Regions from separate parts of the Homo sapiens genome. Here all the other regions are linked to region 1. The links come from fine-mapping of genetic effects on gene expression. A gene starts in region 1. Each other region holds a variant in brackets. All regions are shown on one strand. Distances are between the middles of the regions. Region 1 holds the start of DHTKD1 (dehydrogenase E1 and transketolase domain containing 1). Region 2 overlaps DHTKD1 (dehydrogenase E1 and transketolase domain containing 1). Region 3 overlaps SEC61A2 (SEC61 translocon subunit alpha 2).

The links. PIP is the estimated chance that this variant, and not a neighbour inherited with it, causes the effect.
Region 2: its variant is fine-mapped to the expression of DHTKD1 in whole blood (TOPMed, PIP above 0.99). The same link has a PIP of 0.9 or more in blood mononuclear cells and lung.
Region 3: its variant is fine-mapped to the expression of DHTKD1 in whole blood (TOPMed, PIP above 0.99).

The regions. Positions count from the first base shown.
Region 1 is chr10:12,067,416-12,069,915 of GRCh38, forward strand. It overlaps DHTKD1 (dehydrogenase E1 and transketolase domain containing 1), which reads left to right and starts at 1,539. Exons shown (of 17, transcript NM_018706.7): 1 at 1,539-1,772. The coding sequence starts at 1,619. RefSeq lists silencers at 1,565-1,614, 1,715-1,874.
Region 2 is chr10:12,118,905-12,121,749 of GRCh38, forward strand. It overlaps DHTKD1 (dehydrogenase E1 and transketolase domain containing 1), which reads left to right. Exons shown (of 17, transcript NM_018706.7): 15 at 1-14; 16 at 1,278-1,363; 17 at 1,883-2,845. The coding sequence ends at 1,984. Among named protein-coding and RNA genes, the nearest start is that of SEC61A2, 9.4 kb to the right of the region's middle. RefSeq lists an enhancer at 2,735-2,845. The variant A/G (reference allele first, on the strand shown) is at 1,648.
Region 3 is chr10:12,137,842-12,140,341 of GRCh38, forward strand. All of the region lies in intron 3 of SEC61A2 (SEC61 translocon subunit alpha 2), which reads left to right. Among named protein-coding and RNA genes, the nearest start is that of MIR548AK, 8.3 kb to the left of the region's middle. The variant G/A (reference allele first, on the strand shown) is at 1,263.

The sequences.
Region 1 (2,500 bases):
AGTGCTTTATGAGTGTACTGGTTGAATGAGTAAGAAGGAGGATGTCTTGGGCTTGTATGTATAATATTCCTAGGAGTTTGGGGTATAGCTGCACAGCTTACTGGAACGAAGGATGACTAACCAGGTAAGGATGCAGACTCTCTCTCCTACCATACTGGCAAAGTTAAAAGTAAGCCACAGAAAAAAAATCATTTGGGAAACTCACTCAGAGACAGACCAACTAATCGTTCATGTCCAGTTTCTTTTGACTCTTATCCCTTTCTTCCCTGCTCCCTTTACCCTATTTCCTTCTTTCTCTCTTAATGTTTTTTGTTTGTTTGTGAGACAGAGTCTCGCTCTGTCGCCCAGGCTGGAGTGCAGTGGGCACGATCTTGGCTCACTGCAACCTCTGCCTCCAGGGTTTAAGCGATTCTTCTGCCTCAGCCTCCCGAGTAGCTGGGACTACAGGCACCCGCCACCACACTCGGCTAATTTTTGTATTTTTAGTAGAGACGGGGTTTCACCATAGTAGCCATGATGGTCTCGAACTCCTGACTTCGTGATCCGCCCTCCTTGGCCTCCCAGAGGGCCTCCCAGAGTGTTGGGATTACAGGCATGAGCCACTGCAGCCTGTTTTGTTTTTTTTTTTTTGTTCGTTTGTTTGTTTGTTTTTGTTCTGTTTTTTTTGAGACGGAGTTTCGCTCTTGTTGCCCAGGCTGGAGTGCAATGGCGCCATCTCAACTCACCGCAACCTCCACCTCCCGGGTTCCAGCGATTTTCCTGTCTCAGCCTCCCGAGTAGCTGGGACCACAGGCACCCACCACTACGCCTGGCTAATTTTGTATTTTTAGTAGAGACGAGGTTTCTCCACGTTGGTAAGACTGGTCTCGAACCCCCGACCTCAGGTGATCCGCCCGCCTCGGCCTCCCAAAGTGCTGGGATTACAGGCGTGAACCACCGCGCCCGACCTAATTTTTGTATTTTTAGTAGAGATGGGTTTTCGCCATGTTGGACAGGTTGGTCTCAAACTCCTGACCTCAGATGATCCTCCCGCTGTGGCCCCCCAAAGTGTTAGGATTACAGGCGTGAGCCACCGCGCCCGGCCTCTGTTAATGTTTCTTAAGAAAACAAAAAAATTAGGGGTATTGATTTTGTAGCTGCGCTAAGTAACCTTTGCTTTTTGCGTCCCTTGGTCTCAGTCCTAGCCATTTCCTATCCACCCTGTGGCTAATTTGTCCTTTCTGTAACAGACACCCTAGACTGTGTCTATGCGGTTGGGCAGAGGCGTGATGGGTAAACACTCCTGGCGGGAGACTACAGGCGCTGCAGCTACATCCTGTTTCGTACTGGGAGCAGGTGCCGCCCCGCGGAACACTTACTTGCCCCGCCCTGCGGTGGAGCAGGGCGGTCTCAGCCGCCGGAACCGCCCTGGAAGCCCGCCCCAATCCTGGGCGTCGCTTCGCTGTGAGTGCCGCTGCCACGGATTGGCTTCCAGGGTCCGGCCCGTCGGCCAATCAGGCGCGGGGGCGTTGTCTGGGGGCGGGGCTCCGGCCGCCTCTGACGAGTCCCGGATTTACCAGGGCCGGTGGGATCCCCTCGGGCTCCCGCCTTAGCATGCTGGCCGGGACATCTGGTGAACATGGCCTCTGCTACTGCGGCAGCAGCACGACGGGGCCTCGGCCGGGCTCTCCCTCTCTTCTGGCGTGGCTACCAGACCGAGCGGGGCGTTTACGGCTACCGGCCGAGGAAGCCCGAGAGCCGCGAGCCCCAGGGCGCCCTGGAGCGCCCCCCAGGTCGGGGATGGGGCCCGGGCGGTGGGAGCGGGGGCTGGGACGCAGAAGCCTCCCCTGGCCGATTTGCGGTGGGGTGTCGGGGTCGGGGAACCGGCTGCCGGCCTGAACGCGCGGCCGGTGGGGAGGAGGGGGAGGTGAGGGGAGCAGAGGGTAGGTGTGGGTGCTCAGTGTTGGGGTCATCCCCCGTCCATCCTCTGTAACTGAGGATCTTTGAGGTCCACGCTTGGGTGGTCTTCCCATCTTGCTGGTCCGGACCTGGTTTCGGAAGGGCTTTTCTTTCCTTTGTTGGAAACGTGTGAGAAACTCTTTTTTTCTTTCTCTTTTTGTTTCCTTTTTTTTTTTTTTTTTTTTTTGAGACGGAGTCTCGCTCTGTGGCCCAGGCTGGAGTGCAGTGCTGCGACCACAGCTCCCTGCAGCCTCGAACTCCTGGGCTCAGGCTATCCTTCCACCTCAGCGTCCCGAGTAGCTGGGGACACAGAGGGATGACCACGCCCAGCTTTTTTTTTTTTTTTTTTTTTTTTTTCATTTTTAGTAGAGATGGGGTCCCACCATGTTGCCCAGGCTGGTCTTGAACTCTTGAGCTCAAGCTGATCCTGCAGCCTCGGCCTCCCAATGTGTTGGGATTACAGGCTGAGCCACTGCACCCAGCCTAGAAAACCAGCTCTTTAATGAGGCGGAGCTGTGGGAGAAGTAAAGTTTTAAGGTCTCCCAAGGATACATTTCCAGGA
Region 2 (2,845 bases), 52 kb after region 1:
CAAACATGTTAAAGGTAAGAGGTTGTTCTCATTTGGGTTTTGATGTTCAGATACCCAAAACCCATTTCAGCTCTTTTAAATGAAAAGATGTGGTGGGGGTTATTAGAAAATTGAATCTTGGGCCGGGCGCGGTGGCTCACACCTGTAATCCTGGCACTTTGGGAAGCTGAGGTGGGTGGATCACAAGGTCAGGAGATTGAGACCATCCTGGCTAACACGGTGAACCCCCGTCTCTACTAAAAGTACAAAAAATTAGCCGGGCGTGGTGGCGGGCGCCTGTAGTCCCAGCTCCTTGGGAGCCTGAGGCAGAAGAATTGCTTGAACCTGGGAGACGGAGGTTGCAGTGAGCCGAGATTGTGCCACTGCACTCCAGCCTGGGCACAAGACTCTGTGTCAAAAAAAGACACAAAAACATGAAAATTTGGTACAGGCGGGGCGCGGTGCCTCACGCCTGTAGTCCCAGCACTTTGGGAGGCCGAGGTGGGCGGATCACGAGGTCAGGAGATCAAGACCATCCTGGCTAACACAGTGAAACCCCGTCTCTACTGAAAATACAAAAAAATTAGCCGGGCGTGGTGGCGGGCGCCTGTAGTCCCAGCTACTTGGGAGGCTGACGCAGGAGAATGGCGTGAACCCGGGAGGCGGAGCTTGCAGTGAGCCGAGATTGCGCTACTGCACTCCAGCCTGGGCGACAGAGCGAGACTCCGTCTCAAAAAAAAAAAAAAAAAAAAGAAAGAAAATTTGGTACATATATGGGGCCTGTCCGAGGGTCATGGGGGAGGAGGGAGAGCATCAGGCAGAACAGCTAATGGATGCTGGGTTAATACCTAGGTGATGGATGATCTGAGGAGCAAACCTCCGTGGCACACATTTACCTGCATAACAAACCTGCACATCCTGCATGTGTACCCCAGAACTTAAAAAAGAAAAAAGAAAATGCATTGAATACACCTAAACTACAAAACACAGCTTAGCCTAGCCTGCCTTAAACATGCTCAGAACACTCACATTAGCTTATCGTTGGGCACAATCATTTAACACAAAATCTATTACATTTCATAATGAAGTGTTGAATATCTCAGATAATTTATCGAATACTGTACCAACAGTGAAAAACAGAACTGTTGTATGGGTACTTGAAGTACAGTTTCTAGTGAATGTGAATCCCTTTCACACCATCGTAAAGTTGAAAACTCCATCGTAGGTGGGATCATAGTAAATTGGGGACCGTCTGCATGTGTCTACTTGAGGTGCTGAAAGAATTTCTTCTCTCATAGATCATATTTGGAGTCAGGAGGAACCTCAGAACATGGGTCCGTGGTCGTTTGTTTCTCCAAGGTTTGAAAAGCAGCTGGCCTGCAAGGTAATCACACGTTTTCTCTGGTAGTGTTTTGTGTTTTGTGTGCATGTTGTTTTTCTTTTCTTTCTTTCTTTCTTTTTTTTTTTTGAGACAGAGTCTCACTCTGTTGCCCAGGCTGGAGTGCAGTGGCGCAATCTCAGCTCACTGCAAGCTCCGCCCCCCGGGTTCACGCCATTCTCCTGCCTCAGCCTCCCAAGTAGCTGGGACTACAGGCGCCCGCCACCACACCCAGCTAAATTTTTTTTGTATTTTTAGTAGAGACGGGGTTTCACCATGTTAGCCAGGAT[A/G]GTCTCAATCTCCTGACCTCGTGATCCGCCCACCTCGGCCTCCCAAAGCGCTGGGATTACAGGCATTGAGGCACGGAGCCCTGTCCCTCTAATCTCTTCTGCGTAACTCATTATTTGAAAGAGGTGATTTATGGTTAAACAAGCTAAGAGAAATACATGCACTGTCTTGTTGGAACTAAGCAGAGCTCTGATCTAGTCAAAATGTCATTTTATTTCTTCTCTGCTGCACTTATAGCTCCGTCTGGTGGGCCGGCCCCCTTTGCCAGTACCCGCTGTAGGAATTGGCACAGTTCACTTGCACCAGCATGAAGATATCCTCGCCAAGACCTTCGCTTGATGATGACTTTTGAAGAAACACTATTTCTCTTTAAGAAAATGGCCATTAAGGCCGGGTGGGGTGGCACATGCCTGTAATCCCAGCACTTTGGGAGGCCAAGGCTGGTGGATCACCTGAGGTCAGGAGTTCGAGACCAGCCTGGCCAACACGGTGAAACCCCGCCTCTACTAAAAATACAAAAAATAGCCGGGTGTGGTGGTGGGCACCTGTGATCCCAGCTTCCTGGGAGGCTGAGGCAAGAGAATCGCTTGAATCTGGGAGGCGGAGGTTGCAGTGAGCCAGGATCACACCATTGCTGTCCAGCCTGGGTGACAGAGCAAGACTGCGTTTCAAAAAAAAAAAAAAAAAAACCCATTAAAAGAGGCCTCCTTCCTCCACTCTCTCAACCCCTCTGTTGGGTAACATGAAAAGACTGTATTCCTCTAAGATGTTGGGATTGATATACGTGATTTAATCTGCAATAGGTGGAATAACCAGGGGAACTGGTTATGAATATGTGAATGCAACCAGCAAATTTATCCTTGAAGGTGTGATGGTAGAAATAGGAAAACAACAAAAGAAAAACAATAACAAAAAAAGAAAGTGTGATGGCTGGGTGCAGTGGCTCACGCCTGTAATCCCAGCACTTTGGGAGGCTTAGGCGGCTGGATCACCTGAGGTCAGGAGTTCAAGACCAGCCTGGTCAACGTGGTGAAACGCCGTTTCTACTAAAAATATGAAAATTAGTTGGGTGTGGTGGCATGCGCTTGTAGTCTCAGCTACTCCGGAGGCTGAGGCAGGAGAATTGCTTGAACCTGGAAGGCAGAGGTTGCAGTGAGCCGAAATGGCGCCACTGTACTCCAACCTGGGCGACAGAGCAAG
Region 3 (2,500 bases), 70 kb after region 1:
CTAAAAATACAAAAATTAGCCAGGCATGGTGGCGTGCACATGTAATCCCAGCTACTCGGGAGGCTGAGGCAGGAGAACCACTTGAACCCAGGTGGTGGAGGTTGCAGTGAGCTGAGATCACGCCATTGCACTCAAACCTGGGCAACAGAGCGAGATGCTGTCTCAAAATAAATAAATACATAGATACATACATACATACATACCAGATAATTTAGGTCAAGGTTTTTTGGGGAGTTCGAAAATCTATTGAAATACTTGTAAGAACTTTTAAAAAATTATATTAGGAAGCAGTAGAACAGATTAGGTACATAATCTGGAGAAAACCTAACTATATTTTCTTTCTGAAGGATGAAATGATCTGATAATTAAAGTACTTTTACTACTGTACTTGTTTTAAATTTGTTTTAAATGGTCAGGGAGAGAAGTTTAAAGAAACAAAGAAAAATACAAAGAAAAAAAAGAATAGTCATCCATATTTCTACCATTGACTTTCAGCATCTTAGAAACTCCTCTCCCCACCATTAAAAAAAAAGTCAACCTTGTGGAGGTATAATATATATACAGTAAAGTACACCTGTTTTTAGGCATACATTTTGAAGAGTTTTGACAAATTTGTACACCCACATGACTACAACCTCTGTGGATATAGAACACTTCTGTCATCCCCGAAGTTCACTGTAACCTTTCTCAGTGAATCTCCACAGGCCCAGGCTACCACTCATCTGCATCCTGTGACTGTACTTTGATTTGTTTTTTCTAGAGCTTCATGTAAATGGAATCATACAGTAGTATATTCTTTAGTGTCTAACTTCATAATCTTTTTGAGATTAATTCATATGGTCGTTACGTCAGTAACTCATTCCTTTTTATTTCTGAATACTGTTCTGATGTTGAAGTTATCACAGTTTATTCATTCATTCGCTTGTTAGACATTTGGGTTGTATCCAGATTTTGGCTACAACACATCAATTTGCTATGAACATTCATGTATAAGTCTTTCTGTGGATATTTTTCATGGGTGAGTCCTTAGAAGTACAGCTGTTGGGTTTTATAGTAAATGTATGCTCAACTTATAAGAAATTGTCAGCTCTTTTCCAAGTGGTTGCCCCATTTTGTTTGTTTGTTTGTTTGTTTGTTTGAGACGTAGTCTCGCTCTGTTGCCCAGGCTGGAGTGCAGTGGCACGATTTCGGCTCACCGCAAGCTCCGCCTCCCGGGTTCAAGCGATTCTCCTATCTCAGCCTCCTGAGTAGCTGGGATTTCA[G/A]GCACGTGCTACCATGCCCAGCCAATTTTTGTATTTTTCGTAGAGCTGGGGTTTTACCATGTTGGACAGGCTGTTCTTGAACTCCTGACCTCAGGTGATCTGCCTGCCTCAGCCTCCCAAAGTGCTGGGATTACAGGCGTGAGCCACCACGCCCGGCCCTCGGTTGCCCCATTTTGTATTTCCACCAGCCGTGTTCTGGAGTTCCAGTTGATCTGCATCCTGGTCTACTTTTAGTATTTTTGATTATTTTAATAGTAGTCATCTTGCCAGGCGCAGTGGCTCACGCCTGTAATCCCAGCACTTTGGGAGGCTGAGGCGGGTGAATCACCTGAGGTTGGGAGTTTGAGACCAGCCTGACCAACATGGAGAAACCCCGTCTCTACTAAAAGTACAAAATTGAGCTGGGCGCGGTAGCTCACACCTATAATCCCAGCACTTTGGGAGGCCAACGCAGGCGGATCACGAGGTCAGGAGATCGAGACCATCCTGGCTAACACAGTGAAACCCCATCTCTACTAAAAATAGAAAAAATTAGGCGGGCGTGGTGGCGGGCGCCTGTAGTCCCAGCTGCTCGGGAGGCTGAGGCAGGAGAATGGCATGAACCCAGGATGCAGAGCTTGCAGTGAGCTGAGATCGAGCCACTGCACTCCAGTCTGGGCGACAGAGCGAGACTCCGTCTCAAAAAATAATAAATAAAAATAAATAAAAATACAAAATTGGCTGGGCGTGGTGGCAAATACCTGTAGTCCCAGCTACTTGGGAGGCTGAGGCAGGAGAATGGCGTGAACCCGGGAGGCGGAGCTTGCAGTGAGCCGAGATCCCGCCACTGCACTCCAGCCTGGGCGACAGAGCGAGACTCCATCTCAAAAAAAAAAAAAAAAAAGAATTCATGAACCTGACAGCACTCAACATGGGTAGAGGGGCCGAGAGCTGCTCCAGGGGTGTGGGCAGTGAGCTTTTGTAGCAGAAGTAAAGAATTGCAGAAGTAAAGAAATTACTTGATTGGCTACAGCTAGGCGTTTGCCTCATTTGATTATGTTCCAGTGAGAGGTTTCTGTGTAGCCAATAGGCTGGTTGACTGTCTGTAATTGGCTGAAACTCATTCAGAATTAAATATCCTCTAAGGTCATTTTCAGTTTTCTTTTGTGAGACTTCAGGGTACAGAAACAACCACAGGCTAATGGCCACCTGCTTAGAGTGCCTTAACAAGTTGAAACTGATTATTATATTAAATATAG